2 separate regions of the Homo sapiens genome follow, and region 1 is linked to region 2. The links come from fine-mapping of genetic effects on plasma protein levels. Region 2 holds a variant in brackets. A gene starts in the other region. All regions are shown on their reverse strands.

Region 1 (8,329 bases), not on the chromosome of region 2:
AATAAAAATTCCATCCGGCATTCACACTGAGAAGACCCACATGTGCCTTTAATTTTTTTTTAATTTCCTGGGCTTCCGGCCCAGAAATTGGATGGAAATTGTATTGAAAACTGCCCTTGTGTATCAACTTTTGGTAAATACCAGGCTTTCAGTTGACTCACATTATGCTTTACATTTTGGGCAAAGGGAGGGTATAAAATGATTCACGTCTCTCTATATACATATATTTATACACCTTTTACCTGTCTATGAGACTGTGGCTTATATTAAATGTTCATCATTATTTCTACAATTTTTAGGATCTGCCAGCCCCCACCAACCCCCCCACTGCAACCATAAGACTCAAAATTCCATTAAATCCCTTTCCAGCACTAATCAGCTTTTACTAGCACAGGCAATGTAATCTGAGTTTAGAAATGACTAATTATTTGGAGAGGGCTGGAAGGGGTTAGGGTTTAGATTTCTTTCTAATTTAAAGGAGCTTCTTTCCTGTCTTTCTCCCTGTCATTTTGCTGCCTGTGGCCAGCTCCCCCTCCTTGATGAAAATGCTCTTTCCCTTCCCATTAGACAAGGTATATATGTATGTATTAGAAGAAAAATGTATTAGGAGACATCAAGTTGAAAATATTAAAAGAAGAGCCATGCCTGTGATGGATGTGGGCATGGCAGTAATTGCACCTGCTAGGGGCAAGGCATGGGCATAATTTGCATGTAAAGTTCTCTCGGCTCCTTCCAGAACACACCAGTTCTACCCAATAAAACATTTTGTCACCTGCAGGGGGTTTGCCAACATGTTCCCAGATTGCAAGCAAAAAGATTATTTACAGTAACCAGTAACAACTGAAACAACCATAAACAACCTTTCTGTACCTGTTCTATTTCTTTTTCCTTTGGCTAAGTAGAGGAAGCTTAAGGAGTCCAAATTTACTGCAATTTAATTCTGATGGGGAAAAAGCACATGATTTTTATTTATAGCAGCGTGCTCTATCTATTCCTGTCTCCCCCAACCTCTTTTTAAAACATAAATAACCCCGGAATTTTTTGTAATCCAGCTATTACTCTTGTAGGGATGAGCAGTTTCCTGATAAAGTGAGAGAGGGCAAATGTGGCCAGAAGTTCCCTAATGTATTCAAGAATCCTGTTGTATGCTCATAGAGTAAGGGGGACTAGGGAAAAATCACCTGGTCAAGCCATTCATGCAATTTCTTTTTTTGTTATTGTTGTTGTTCTGTTTTGAGATAGGGTCTTGCTCTGTCACCCAGGCTGGAGTGCAGTGGTTCAATCATGGCCCACTGCAGCCTGGACCTCCCAGGCTCAAGCGATCTCCTCCTGCCACAGCCTCCCAAGCAGCTGGGACTGCAGACACACACCATCATGCTCAGCTAATTTTTAAATTTTTTGTTGAGAGGCGGTCTCACTGTATTGCCCAGGCTGGTCTCAAACTCCAGGGCTCAAGGGATTCTCCCACCTCAGTCTTCCAAAGTACCAAGCAACTTCTTTGTGGCAATTGGAAATGCAGGGGGCCTACATGCTGACTTTGCTGTAGGGAGCGGCACCTTGCATCTGACTGACCTGGGTCTTACCTCTTGTCCTCAAACCCCCTCTAGGAGAGTTTTTCCAGAAGTTCAGATTTCATTCTGAATTGCAGAGGACCACGCACGTATCTCTTGAGAAAATGATCAAACGTGAGAAAGTGCAGTTAAACCAGGCCTGGTTTGCCCAGGTTGCTTCTCTTGATGAGGTGTTGCTTCATTCCATCTGCAGGAATCACAGGGAGAGGATCAAGGAGAGGAAACAGGGCCATAAACTGTCAAGTCTAATTAAATGTGACTAGATTATTTAATATGAAGGGACAACGTGATACATTTTAAAAACAATGTCAGAGAATTATAAAATGAAAAGTATAAAGTCTCCTCTGCTCCAATTTCAGTCTCACTCACTAGGACTAACAATTGTTAACAGTATCCTTAGACATCCTTTCAGAAATTGTGAATGCATAAATATGGATACATACACACAAAAGGGTGCGTGCGTGTGTGTGTGTGTGTGTGTGTGTGTGTGTGTGTGTAAGTGCTTGTAAGCACAAAAACGGTACAGGTACCAACTTTCCTGTGCCGATCAACAGTACATGTCCCAAGTTCTCCTAACAATACCGTTTATTTATTTTTTTATTTATTTAGAGACAGGGTCTCCCTCAGTCTTTTGGTCTGGAGTGCTGTGGCACAATCATGGCTCACTGCAGCTTCCACCTCCTGAGCTCGAGTGATCCCTCAAGTGCTCCTCCCACCTCAACCTCTCAAGTAGTTGGGACAACAGGTGCGTGCCATGACGCCCACCTAATTTAAACTTTTTGTTTGTTTGTTTTTTGCAGAGACAAAGTCTCCCTATGTTGCCCAGGCTGGTCTCAAACTCCTGGGCTCAAGAGATCCACCTGTCTTGGCTTCTCAAAGTGCTGGGATTACAGGAGTGACCCACCTCCGCCCAGCCTCTAAGGATACCTCTTGGAGGTCATTTATGCCAATACTAGTAGATGCACCTTTCTCTCTGCCGCTGTATGTCTCCACTGTATTTTATCAGCCACTCTCCTAATGAAGGACAGGTAGGTTGTTCCCAACTGTTTTTCGTACAACTAAAGTTGCAGTGTTTGCACGGGTTTGACTGGAAGTAAGTCACCAGCGGTTCAGCGCAAAGGCTCAGGACTGCAACAGGCTTATTCAAGTCCGGGTTCTCCAACCCACCACTGTGTGTATACTTGGGCAAATAAAGGTGGTAAGATCTACTTCACAGGGTCCTTGACAGAATATAGTTGCGATTATTCTCACAACTGACTCATTGAAACTTTAAGCAAACCAATTTCCTCATCACTAAATCCGGGAATAATAATAGATCCAGGTTGCTCTGGGGACTGCATGAACTAATTGATTTAGCGCAGTCCACGACCTGCTACCTAGTGAGCCCTTAATAATTATCCGCTTTAATATTAAAATTGGCAATCTTTGCGCACTTGTGGGAGCGCAGCTGCAGGAGGCTTTTCTAGAAGTGGAATTCCTGCCTTAACCCCGTGTTCCGAGGGCCCTAACTGCGTGGCACGAGGCCACCCGGAGGTGACACGGTGACCGCCGCCCAGCCCGCGCCGCCGCCCAGGGCCCTGCGGAGGCCGGACACACGTGGGTGCACGCGGCCGAGCGCAGGGCCGCGCGGGGTCCGGCCGGCGCAGAGGCGCTGGGGGCGCCGCAGACGCGAGGCTCGGGACCCAGTTGGCTGCTCCGCCGCGCTCCCCGCCCCTCCCTCCCTCCAGTCCGCCCGGTCTCCCCTCCCTCCAGCGTCCGCGTCGGAGCCGGAGCCGGAGCCGGAGTGGCGGAGGCACGGGCAGTGCTCGCTAGGCGCCGGCAGCAGCCACAGCAGCCTGGCGCTTGGCGGCGGCGGCGGTGGCAGCGGCGGGCGGGCTGGCGCCGTGGACTGGGCCGGGAACCGTGCGGACGAGGGTGCTGCGCCTGCGGCGGCGGCGGCTTACGCGGGCGCGCACGGCGGCCCCCCGGGCCCGGACTAACTGCGGCGGCGGCGGTGGCGGCGGCGGCGGCGGCGGCGGCGGCGGCGAGTGGGCCGTCGGGGCGGGCGTCTGGCGAGCTGCAGAGACCAGGTAAGTCCGGGATGCCCGACTCCTGGCGCCGGCCGGGCCACAGGGATGAGCCACCTGCCAGGGCAAACTTTACGCCCTGGCTTCATGGCTCCTCAGCCCCGAAGTTTGTTTGCAGGGAAATGCACCTGACGGGTCGAGAATAAAAGATGCTTCTCTCATCGGACTTGCTCTGGGGAGATTATTTTTCCCCTTCTGGGGCGAGGATTGGTTTCGGGTTGGGAAGGCTGCATCCCCAGCTGGAGCGCTGAAAATTGAGTGGTAGGTCCCTTGGGCTTGCCCTTCGCGCAGTGGATTTGACCAGTTAAAGTTGGGGGAAAAAAGTTGTGACTCCTAGGGATGCTGAGGAACAATTCCAGGTGCATGATGCAGAATGTGGGAATGTGATACCTCTTTGCTGGAACCACCCCCCAGGCCCAGATTCCCAGGTCTGAGAAAGCTAGGGTGGCCGATTCTTTCATTAGCGATCAAGTTTTCTAAGCTGCATTTTCTTTCTACTCACAGATCAGCAGCTTGGGACGGAGTTCCCCGTCGCGTTTATTTGTCAGGTTTACCCTGCTGCGCTGTAGTCCAGGTTTCCTGAGCTCGGACCCTGGTTTCAGCTGTTTCTGTGTTCTCTGAGGAGCCTGCAAAGCTAACCAAGCAGGTAACAGAATAGCAGAAACAGAAAACCAGGAAGTGCCAACCGGGCACCGGGGTCATAGCACCATCAGGAATTTTTTCTGGTCGCGTGAAATGAACGAACAGCTTCTGGGCTCTGCTTGTGCAAAGCTCCGTACAACTCTCCAATCCGTATGTCTTTCCCTGTATTGCATTTGCTTATTGATTTACAACAAGGAGATGTGTCCAGAGGTATTATTTAATAACAAACGGTGTCCGCTACGGTAAGGACAGCAAACCTCCTTTCAGAGGCAAAGAAAGGGGAACAGAGCTCTGGGAAAGGGGTAGCCAGTCTGCTAACCTCAACCCAAGATGCAGGGAAACAGAGCTAGAAAAAGCAACAGACAAGGAGGGCGTGATGTGCAGGAGGGAGGTCAGAAACCCCAGCTCATATGGTGAGTAGGTAAATCCAGAAATAATTTTAAAATGATTAAGCAAGAATAACTAAAAAAAAAAAAAAAAAAGTAGGAAGACTGTACGTGCTGTGGTTTCTGTCTACCCCCACAGAGATGAATATCACACTAGCTGAAAAAGAATCCTGATCTGTAAATAGATTAAAAACAGGAATTAATCAGAACAATGAGTCAGAGCCCTTCAGAGATTGAAAGGAGGAGTAATTGCCTTTGAAAGAGCTTATATCTCAATATCAAGTCAAATGTGTTACTTTTGCTTTGCTAGATGTGTTTACTAACAGTAACCTGACTTTGGCTGCAGTAACCTGGCATCTTGGTTCATGGTTTTAACCATTTGTGGGTCATGGGACTAGGGAGAAAGTTGACTGCAGGTTAATATTCATATCAATTTGTGCAACATTTGTAAGATGCCTAATACGTGCATGTCACTGGTTGCAATGGGAGAGGTCCTTGTGAATGTTCATTAAAGAAATCTGATCGGGTTCAGCCTCACTAAATGGAAGGATGTTGGCTTGCAAATAATAAAGAGTGGGGTTGGGAATTATTGGTCTTTGAATACTTGCTTGAAATTAGTTGAGAGTAAACATGTGGTTTGAGGACCCCCAAAATGATCAGTATCCACCAGGGAAATATAGCAAATTGCTGTACACTTTTATAAGATGAATAGTAAGGCTGAATGCATGCAAGTGGCCCTTCTGTCTAAAAGTAGGATAACCGAGACACCGAGTGTCTAATTGATATGCAGGGTAATAGATTCAGGCTGTGGCCGCCACAGACAATAACATTCAGCCTCATGTCCTCCTCACTGTCTGGATGTCATTAATGTCAGCCCGAAGACATGAAGATGTTAAGTTCATTTCTCCAGGAGAACTCTAACTTTTAAATATTCTTCACAACACAACCAGATAGCCCAAGTGTACCTTAAAATGGCAACAAAGCATTTAATAGGAGCAAAGTGCTGAGCACTTTCAAGTAGAGAGAAGATTAGCCGTGGACAACAAGCTGTAGCCTTTCCTTTGCTGATTTATGTTCAATTTTATCACTGTCACATTTCATATATGCCCAGTTATTACAAACTAATAGCCTCTTTTCTCTGCTTGCAAAATATGCATCTTTCTCTTTTACAAGTTCCTAACTCCTTCTCACACATTCAGTACACATCTTCCAGCTTTGTTTTTACTGCAAAATTTAAGTGTCCAACTTGAAGTTCTCATTAACTCTTAATATGGTTCATGCTGAAATAGTATATAGATATAATTGCTGCTTCCAAACTGTCAGATCTGTATATCGCTATACTGTGGCAATACTACAAAACAGAGAAGCTTTGACTGGTTTCCAATCACCAGTTAGTAAGTTGTTAGCAGTAAAACTAATGTTAATTTTATGTAGTGGAATATATTCAGATGGCAGGAGGATTTATTGATGCTGTGCATGTTTGCCTGCTGTCTCTGATTTAGTTGTCACCACCAGTCTGCCTTTAAGCCTTCTTATCTTAGCAAGGTACTTTGTCTCTATGAAGGTGAGCATCTTTAAGGTGCTCACTTGTAGTTTTTAATATGCACACATGCATATGCATATACTTTTAACATGCATATATAATTAATCACTTAATGCTGGTGGACAGTTTCCTTTCTTATGCTTGAAAAAAGTGCAATGGAGAATATCATTGTTGCAAAGATAGTTGGCAAGAGAATATGGGGCCACGGAACAGTTTAAGATAGAACATTTCTTTGAAATTGAGGGGTGACAGATCTCATTCTCATATCCAATTTGTATAAACATTTCAGAAATGGATCGAGTGTTGTAAATGGTTTTTATCTTATAGTCTCCCCTGCACTCATCTCTTAAACACAGTGGGACATTTCTTTGGAAAAATTGCTGCAGGAGAAATGCACTCCCTGGTTGAAACTTTGTATGCCAAGTTTCAATCCATAGTACATTTTTATTTTCCCCCTTTTATGTACATGTTATAAACAAGAAATAAGGGTTTGTAATAGAAGTGCTGGCAGAACTTTATAGCATTTCAAACAGCTTTGCTACTTGGAATGTAAATATTTGTAGAATCTTTACTGTGCAAGAACCTGCCTTGCAAGGAATGAGGAAAAATGACTATTTTCTTAAGTAGGATAAAATAATTCAGTGAGTTTGCATATTTCTTGTTGCAGACCTATTGGCATTTGAAGACATAGATTATCTATGTTGTAGTGATTCCATAGCATTCTCTTAGGTGCCTTTATAACTCAGCTTGTAAATTTCCTATGTTCTAAAACAAGAGAACAATTTTGTCCCATTTGTTTTTTAAGTCCCTTGACTTTGATTACCTTTCAGATGTTAAGATATGAGATCCATATTTCAAAACTGCTTGATTATATTACTGATAAATGAGGCTGTCAGTATACTGTTTTAATAGGGTAAATCTTGACACCATCACAATACTTCAAGTGCTTTTATTTTGGGGAACTAGTACAACTCAGACCTTATATGTCCTTTTGGTTCTAACCCTGAAATATCTCTCACATTCGCCCACTTCCCTCCATGTTCACCCACGTCCTCCTTCTCCAAGTCCCCATCTTCTCTCCTGGGATAACTACACTGGCTTCCTTGGCTCCTTTCGTACTTCTTCCCCCAAATCATCCTGCATAGCAGCCAAGACTTCTTTTTTTTTTAATGTAAGTTAAATTAGTACTCATCTACTCAGAATGCTTAAATGGCTTTTCATTGAACTCAGAATAAAATCCAAACTATTAAATATTACCTGCAAGGCTGTGTGGGATTTAAACACTACTGTCCCTTTGACAATTCCTAGCAAGCTTTTAGGAACAAGAGCTTCTTAGACCCTTTTTCATTTCTGCAGATGTGTTGAGCTCTTTCCTATGTTAGGGATCATTCTGTTCTTTTGCCCAGTAGCCCTGTCCAGCCCTAACGCCTAAACACACATACGCACACACGTGTGCACACACACAAACTCACAGGGTTTTTTTTTTCATTTTTGTTTTTTTCGACAGGGTCTCACTCTGTCACCCAGGCTGGAGTGCAGTGGTGCGATCATGGTTCACTGGAACCTCGACCTCCTGGGCTAAGTGATTCTCCCACCTTAGTCTCCTGAGTAGCTGGGACTATAGACACACACCGCCATGCCCTGGCTAATTTTTGGATTTTTTGTAGAGATGGGAATTCACCATGTTGCCAAAGCTGTTCTTGAACTCCTGAACTCAAACGATCTGCCCACCTCGACCTCCCAAAGTGCTGAGATTATAGGTGTGAGCCGCTGAGTCTGGCCCACATAGAGTTTTTGACTGCTACTCATCCCTTAGGCCACAGTGTAAATATCATTTGCTTAGAGAGGGCTCTCTGATTTCCTTCCTACCCTGAATGAGGGCACTTCTGATAGGCTCTTTCTGTTCATTTCCTTGGTATGCTTAGTATAACTTGGAACTGTACATTTCCTTACCTGATTGTATGTTTATATTCTGTAAGTACCTTGTAAGCAGTTACCACATCTATTTTATGCATTATTGCAAAGCAGCTTCTGTCAAAGTATCTGGCCCACAGTGGAGTTTGATAAACCTATGACAACTAAGCTTATTGGTTTGCTGAGCTTGCCATATGTAACCAAAGA
Region 2 (8,329 bases):
AGTGCTGGGATTACAGGCTTGAGCCACTGCGCCCAACCAGAATTTACTTGTTTTTTATGAGTCGGGTTCCCACTCTGTTGCCCAGGCTGGAGTGCAGTGGTGTGATCACAGCTCACTTCAGCCTTGAACTCCTGGGCTCAAGCGATCTTCCCACTGCAGCCTCCTGAGTAGCTGAGACTAGAGGTTTGCACCACCATGCCCAGCTAACTTTTTTTTTTTTTTTTTTGAGATGGAGTCGCTCTCTGTCGCCCAGGCTGGAGTGCAGTGGCACAATCTCGGCTCACTGCAAACTCCGCCTCCCGGGTTAACGCCATTCTCCTGGCTTAGCCTCCCAAGTAGCTGGGACTACAGACGCCTGCCACCACGTCCGGCTAATTTTTGTATTTTTAGTAGAGACGGGGTTTCACGTTGTTAGCCAGGCTGATCTCGAACTCCTGACCTCAGGTGATCCACCCACCTCGGCCTCCCAAAGTGCTGGGATTACAGGCATGAGCCACTGTGCCTGGCCCCAGCTAACTTTTTAACTGTAGAAACAGGGTTGCACTATGTTGCCCATGCTGATCTCAAACTCCTGGCCTCCTACAGTCCTCCTGCCTCGGCCTTCCAAAGTGCTGGGATTACAGGTGTGAGCCATCCCCAGCCAGTCATAAAAAGTTCTTGAACCCTAGCGTTACGCTCTTCCTCCAGGCTGAGTCTCTTCTCTCACAGCCCCAAATCCTTTTCTTCCTCCTGGGCTTGGATATTGTCACTGTCACATCTGCTCTAACCCTGCCTGGGCCATGAACGTCATAACCTTAGCATGGAAGCGGGAGAGAAGGCAGGCAGGTCAAGGGTGCGACACGGGGTGATCAGAATGGGCTGGGAGGTTGCTGGGATACAGACAGGGACAACAGACTCAGGAGTCCCCCACCAGGTGCCACAGAAGAAGCTGGCCCAGGAGGTAGCAGAGTCTCCCCCCACCCCCACCTCCATGTCTCCCTACCAAACAGATGGTGTTTATCTAATTCTCAGAGGGAGGGGCCCAGCCAGTGGCCCAGAGAGCTGGGCTGTGTATCTTATTTGGGTAATGAGGCCTGTTGTCCCTGGTGGGGAGGGGGCAGTCCCCCACCCCCACCCCAAAGCAAACACAGGAACTTGGAGACCAGGGAGGAGAGAGGGCCCAATGACCAATGCACTCAAGTAGGGAGAGGCTGCGGAGTCAGACTGGCACCCACCCACATTTCACCCCCAGAATGTAGGAAAGACCCCTGGAGGAAGCAGGTATGGTTTTCTGAAAGACTAAGCCTTGGGGGCCAGGTGCGGTGGCTCACGCCTGTCATCCCAGCACTTTGGGAGGCCAAGGTGGGTGGATCACTTGAGGTCAGGAGTTCGAGACCAGCCTGGCCAACATGATGAAGCCCCGTCTCTACTAAAAATACAAAAGTGAGCTGGGTGTCATGGCATATGCCTGTAATCCCAGCTACTCAGGGGGCTGAGGCACGAGAATCATTTGAACCTGGGAGACGGAAGTTGCAGTGAGCCAAGATCATGCCACTGCACTCCAACCTGGGTGGCAGAATGAGGCTCCATCTCAAAAAAATGAAAAAATGGCTAAGACTTGGGGCCTCAGCCTTCCCATCTGAGATCTGAGTAAGGGATGCAAAAGGCGGGCTAGAGGGGACTGGTACACAACCCTGGCTTGTGGATGGAGACGAGAGAGGGAGGGAGAGACTAGCAGGGGGTCTAAGACCCTGAATGTCTTGGCCTCCTGGCTCAGCTTCCTGGAGGCAGAAGACTTGGCCTGTGCCTAGCAGGACCCTCACCAGTGTAAGCTCTTCCATCCAGTGGATTTTTTTTTCCTTCAAGACAGGATCTTGCTCTGTTGCCCAGGCTGGAGTGCAGTGGCGTGATCATAGCTCACTGTAGCCTCAAACTCCCGGGCTGAAGAAATCCTCTGACCTCGCCTCCCTAGTAGCTAGGACTATAGGTGCATGCCACCACACCCGGCTAATTTTAAAATTATTTTGTAGAGACAGGGTCTTGCTATGTTGCCCAGGCTGGTCTCAAACTCCTTGGCTCAAGCGATCCTCCCGCCTTGGCCTCCCAAAGTGTTGGGATTACAACCGTGAGCTACCGCGCCCAGCCCATCCTGTGGATTTGATGGACAGCTAGGGTTAGAGTGAGGGTGCTCTGTCTCCATGAATACCATTTGCTCATCCTAGCGGCCTTCCTTTGGGATCTGTTGGTTCATTGTCTTCTGTGCAGCCCTGAGAAGAGCACACCTTCTCGCTGAGTCCAGGTTGCCACCCTGGGATTCTGGGCATGGCAGACACCAAAAGGACTGTACCATGAAGGCAGTGACTGCCACTCTCTATAAAGAGGCACCCTCGGCTGGGCATGGTGGCTCACATCTGTAATCCCAGCACTTTGGGAGGCCAAGGTGGGCAGATCACTTGAGGTCAGGAGTTTGAGACCAGCCTGGGCAACATGGTGAAACCCCGTCTTTACTAAAAATACCAAAAAAATTAGCTGAACGTGGTGGCGCACAACTGTAATCCCAGCTACTCGGGAGGCCGAGGCACGAGAATTGTTTGAATCCAAGAGATGGAGGTTGTGGTGAGCTGAGATCTCACCACTGCACTCCAGCCTGGATGACAGACTGAGACTCCGTCTCAAAACCAAAAGCAAACCAAAAAAAACCAAACCAAACCAAAACAAAACACAGAGGCTCCCTCTCTACCAGGCAAACCATGGCCATCCCCTTTGCCTCTCCTGGGCCTAAGGAGGCCTGAGTGACCTCGGACCTGCCCCTTTCCTCCCTGACTCTCAGGAAGGTCTTTTTTTTTTTTTTTTTTTTTTGAGACGGAGTTTCACTCTTGTTGCCCAGGCTGGAGTACAACGGTGTGATCTCAGCTCACTGCAACCTCCGCCTCCCAGGCTCAAGCAATTCTCCTGCTTCAGCCTCCTGAGTAGCTGGGATTACAGGTGTGCGCCACCACAGCCAGCTAATTTTGTATTTTTAGTAGAGACAGGGCTTCAGTATGTTGGACTAGGCTGGTCTCGAACTCCTGACCTCAGGCGATCCACCCGCCTTGGCCCCGCAAAGTTCTGGGATGACAGGCGTGAGCTACTGCACCCAGCCCAGGAAGGTCATTTCTTATTCTCTTAAATGAGAAATGGGCCTGAGCACTGTCCCCAGCCAGCCTCCAAGACACACCTGTGAGGCCACTGGACATTGTTGCTTCCAGGGCCGAGCTGATCCACAGGTTTCAGCGTGGCTTTTGTTCTGCAGTAGACTGACAAACAGGTCTCCCCAGGGAACACAGGGGCCGCTGGTGGGAGTCTGGAAGGGGATTTTGAAGGTCTGACTCTCTGGATAGGAATTTCAGGCAGGTTGGGTTGGGGGGCCAGATTTGGAGGGGCCCCTCAAATGCCAACCATAGATGGATGCCTAGTGCATGGGGAATATGGGGACCAGCCTCTGTGGCAGCACTGCATCTCCCTAACCCTACTCCTCTCCCCTTTGACAGTGGCAAGCTGGTGTCTCCCAAGTGGAAGAATTTCAAAGGCCTCAAGCTGCTCTGCAGAGACAAGATCCGCCTGAACAACGCCATCTGGAGGGCCTGGTATATCCAGTGTGAGTGGCTACCACCAGCCTCCCAAGCCGGGAGGGACTGCCCCCTCCAACCCTCCTGCCAGAGGGTTCTACATGGTGGCTGCCCAGGAAAATCCCCGGGGTCCTCAAGGCCAGCACTAGCAGAGTTCTGCCAACCTTTTTTTTTTTTTTTTTTTTTTGAGACACAGTCTTGCTCTGTTGCCCAAGCTGGAGTGCAGTGGTGCCATCTCGGCTCACTGCAACTTCCGCCTCCCAGGTTCAAGCCATTCTCCTGCCTCAGCCTCCCAAGTAGCTGGGACTGCAGGCACCCACCACCACTCCCAGCTAATTTTTGTATTTTTAGTAGAGACGGTTTCACCATGTTGGCCAGGCTGGTCTTGAACTCCTGACCTCAAGTGATCTGCCCACCTTGGCCTCCCAAAGTGCTGGGATTACAGGCGTGAGCCACCACGCCTGACCCTGACAGCCTTTTAGGGGGAGACCAGGCCCCCAGCACCAGGACTCCTGAATAGCTCCTGACCTCCAGCGGGTCTCGGGGAATAGGTCCCAAAGGGTGTTTCCACTGTGAAGCTGGGCACAGCAGAGGTCACCCCTCAGTAGCACTAGGGTAGGCTGAGATTTGAGGTACAGTTCAAAGCCCATTTTGCATCCCATTAGCATAGTTGGGTGCCTTGAATGCGAGGGTAAAAAGGGCCATTAGACACTAGCGGGGCCAACTGCATCACTTTGTAAATGGAGAAACTGAGGATCCCGCATGGGTCTCCACCAGCCTTTCATTGAAGTCCTTCCTGAATATCCAGTAGGTGCCCACCATGGCCAATTGGGCAGAGGGGATCCAGAGAGGCCATGCCATCTCGTGGAAGGAACTCTGGACTTAGAGTTGCCCAGAGCTAGTTCCTCCACCCCGTCTCTGCCCCTTGCTGGCTGTGTGACTTCAGGCTAGTTGCCTAGCCTCTCTGAACTTGTTTCCTTATCTATAAAAAC[G/A]AGGCCACGGTGGCTCACACCTGTAATCCCAGCACTTTGGAAGGCCAAGGCGGGCAGATCACAAGGTCAGGAGATCGAGACCATCCTGCCTAACGCAGTGAAACCCGGTGTCTACTAAAAATACAAAAAATTAGCTGGGCGTGGTGGCGGGTGCCTGTAGTCCCAGCTACTCGGCAGGCTGAGGCAGGAGAATGGCGTGAACCTGGGAGGCGGAGCTTGCAGTGAGCTGAGATCGCGCCGCTGCACTCCAGCCTGGGCGACAGGGCGAGACTCCGTCTCAAAAAAAAAAAAAAAAAAAGGGCAAAACAAAAAACGAGGCCAATAGTCCTAACTTTCATGGTTGGTGTGGAGATAACAGGTATTCCAGGGTGTTGCCACTAAGTTGGTATCCAATACATGATGTATCCTTAAGGAGGTCACATTCTCATTCATTTGGGAACACCCCACTCCCCATGGCAGGGCAGCAGAGGCAGAGAGGACTTGGATCCGCCAGCCCTGTGTTGGGACCTCATTCAGGTCAGGTTCTGCTGCAGGATCAAAGGCTGCACTGAGCTGGGAATGCAAAGCCCAGGAGAGACCACACGCAGTATTCTCTGTCCTCGCCCCGCTGGATTTCATCCAAGCAGGGAGAGGGTGTGTTTTCTGGTTTCCATTTATCTACATGCCAGGCACTTTCGTGAATCACCTTATTTAAGGCTTCCTAGCAACCCTGGGAGATAGGTTTTATTACCGCCATGTTATGGATGAGCAACTGAGGCTCAGAAGGCAAGTGACATATTCAGGTTCACAGAGCGTAAAAGAAGCAGAGCTGGGGCTGGCTGGAAGTCCACAGTTCCCCAACTCCAAATTATGGCGGTGGGGGGGGTTTGTTTGGTTTTGTTTTGTTTTTTAATACGAAGTTTCGCTCATGTTGCCCATGCTGGAGTGCAGTGGCGTGATCTTGGCTCACTGTAACCTCCGTCTCCCTGGTTTAAGAGATTCTCCTGCCTCAGCCTCCTGCACCTCTCCTGGGGCAAGAAGAACTTTCCACTTTGTATTGTCTCGTGTTGTTTGTTTACTTCCCTTATCTCTCCCACTAAGCTGTGGGCACCAAGTAGCTGGGATTACAGGCACCCGCCAAATTTTGTATTTTTAGTGGAGACAGGGTTTCACCATGTTGTCCAGGCTGGTCTCGAACTCCTGACCTCAGATGATCTGCCCGCCTCAGCCTCCCAAAGAGCTGGGGTTATAGGCGTGAGCCACCACACCCAGCCTGCAGAAGAAATTTCTGATGGCAGCTGAGGCATGATGTCACCTGGGGTCCTCACCCAGACACACTGATCTCCAGCTATTGCACAAGTTGCTGGAAGGACCCCAGGTTCGGAATCAGACAGAGTGAGGTTTCAGTCCAGCCCTAGCATGTCCTAACTGTGTGGGCTTGGGAAATTCTCTAGCCTCCCGGAGTCGAAGCTTGCTATTTGTGAAAATGGGAATGACAGGTCCTATTTGTTTTTTCTTGGTTTTCTTTTTTTTGAAACAGTCTTGCTCTGTCACCCATGCTGAAGTGCAATGGCACGATCTCGGCTCACTGCAACCTTCACCTCCCAGTTCAAGCAATTATTGTGCCTCAGCCTCCCAAGTAACTGGGACTACAGGCGCATGCCACCATGCCTGGCTAATTTTTGTATTTTTAGTAGAGACGGGGTTTCACCATGTTGCCCAGGCTGGTCTTGAACTCCTGGCCACAAGTGATCTGCCCACCTCGGCCTCCCAAAGTGCTGGGATTACAGGCATGAGCCACCGCGCCCGGCCAATAGGTCCTATTTCTGAGGTTCACTGAGTTTTCAGTGAGATCATCTGTATCTCACTGTCATAGTCATAGCAGCACGTGACACACATACAACAAATGTCAAGACCCCTCCTCCTCCCTAAACGCCAAAGGTTTGAAGGTGGGCTTCACGGGAGTGGGGAGGAGAAGGGCTTACTTGGCTTGACGCCACTAATGTCGGGCCTTAGGGCTCAAGCAGGAAGGGCTCTGCCACCCCCTGCAGGCTCCTATCCTCTAAGATTCTTCCTTTCCTGATCCAACAGTCATACTCCCACACTCTGAAATCGTCTTGGTGTCCTGGGAGCTCCCTGGCACTTTGCACCGCTCCTGGGGCAAGAAGGACTTTCCACTTTGCATTGTCTCGGGTTGTTTGTTTACTTTCCTTATCTCTCCCGCTAAGCTGTGGGCACCCTGCCTGATTCATCCATGTGTCCTGTCCCAGTATCTGTCTCAGCATAGGTGCAAAGGGTTCCGCGGCTGAGTGAAGGGAAGAACTTATCAGTGTTAAACAAAGCCTGCCCCAGCCCCCAGGAAGCCACATGGTTACAGCCTTTCCATGAGAAACAGTCCAGAGGATGGGGTCTCTGGGCTGGGGAGGGGGGCTTCACTTGGCCCTGACTTTCTGAGAGCCCTGGACAAACTTTTTTTTTTTTTTTTTGAGATGGGGGTCTCACTCTGTTGCTCAGGCTGGAGTGCAATGGTGTGCTCTCGACTCACTGCAGCCTCCTCCTCCGGGGTTCAAGCGATTCTCCTGCCTCACCCTCCTGAGTAGCTGGGACTACAGGTGCGCACCACCACGCCCGGCTAATTTTTTGTATTTTCGGTAGAGACAGGGTTTCTCCATGTTGGTCAGGCTGGTCTCGAACTCCCGACCTCAGGTGATCCGCCCACCTCGGCCTCCCAAAGTGCTGGGATTACAGGCGTGAGCCACCGCGCCTGGCCTAACAAACTTAATTTTATTCTATTTTTTGAGACAGGGTCTCACTTCATCACCCAGGCTGGAGTGCAGTGGAGCCAACATAGCTCACTGCGGCCTCCAATTCCTGGGCTCAAGCAATTCCCCCACCTCGGCCTCCCTAGTAGCTGGGACTACAGGCATGCGCCCCCACACCCAGCTATTTTTTATTTTTAATTTTTTGTAGGGGCAGGGTCTCACTAGGTTGCTCAGGCTGGTCTCAAACTCCTGGCCTCAAGCAATCCTCTCAGTTCAGCCTCCCAAAATGTTGGGGCTACAGGCGTGAGCCACCACACCGTACCAGGACAAACTTCATCTTTGCTGGTGTTCATTTCCTCATCTGGAAAGCCAGGGGCAGACACACTTTGAGACCCTCCTTCCTTATCTAGCCCCCTGGGAGTCTATGCACCCAAGGACCCAGCCCTTTGTTTTCTGTCCAATCTGGGCTCAGAAACCAGGACAAAACCCCTCCTTCAATCCTATCAGTGTCCATTTTGGAGAATGCTTTATTTTATTTTATTTTTTTTTTTTTGAGACAGTCTCACTCTGTCACCCAGGCTGGGGTGCAGTGGTGTAATCTCAGCTCACTGCAACCTCTGCCTCCCGGGTTCAAGCAATTCTCATGCCTCAGCCTCCCAAGTAGCTGGGATTACAGGCATGCGCCACCACGCCTGGCTAATTTCTGTATTTTTAGTAGAGATGGGGTCTCACTATGTTGCCCATGCTGGTCTTGAATTCCTAGATTCAAGTGATACGCCGGCCTTAGCCTCCCAAAGTGCTGAGATTACAGGCGTGAGCCACCGTGCCCAGCAGATTTTGGAGAATGTTCTTTAGGACAGAACTTTGTAAATGATGCTAAAAAGCCCTAGTAAATTTCATGTTCCAGTGGTCCCCCTTCCTCTGTGTCCTCGTTTGTCCCAGAGGAAGTTGGCTGGGGCAGGAAGGGTCAGCAGTTGTTCTCTTTGTCAGAGCAGCCAGGAAAAGTCTC

Alleles and levels. Alleles are on the strand shown, and positions count from the first base shown. The strength of an association depends on the size of the effect and on how common the allele is.
With allele A in place of G in region 2, the plasma level of the protein whose gene starts at base 3,372 in region 1 is lower (moderate association).

What was found. A credible set is the group of variants that fine-mapping cannot tell apart. PIP is the posterior inclusion probability: the model's chance that the variant is causal. The UK Biobank Pharma Proteomics Project read protein levels with antibody pairs (Olink). The fine-mapping took linkage between variants from a reference panel, not from the people measured, so its PIPs are less certain.
Region 1: it holds the start of CNTN3, and the variant in region 2 is the best candidate, but not a certain one, in a credible set for the plasma level of the CNTN3 protein (UK Biobank, PIP 0.87).

Annotation. Positions count from the first base shown.
Region 1 is chr3:74,609,702-74,618,030 of GRCh38, reverse strand. CNTN3 (contactin 3) reads left to right here and starts at 3,372. Exons shown (of 23, transcript NM_020872.3): 1 at 3,372-3,640. It overlaps LOC105377166 (a long non-coding RNA gene), which reads right to left and starts at 4,228. Exons shown (of 3, transcript XR_007096257.1): 1 at 4,140-4,228; 2 at 1,584-1,758.
Region 2 is chr7:73,611,358-73,619,686 of GRCh38, reverse strand. MLXIPL (MLX interacting protein like) reads left to right here. Exons shown (of 17, transcript NM_032951.3): 2 at 3,510-3,616. Among named protein-coding and RNA genes, the nearest start is that of MLXIPL, 9.0 kb to the left of the region's middle. The variant G/A (reference allele first, on the strand shown) is at 4,580.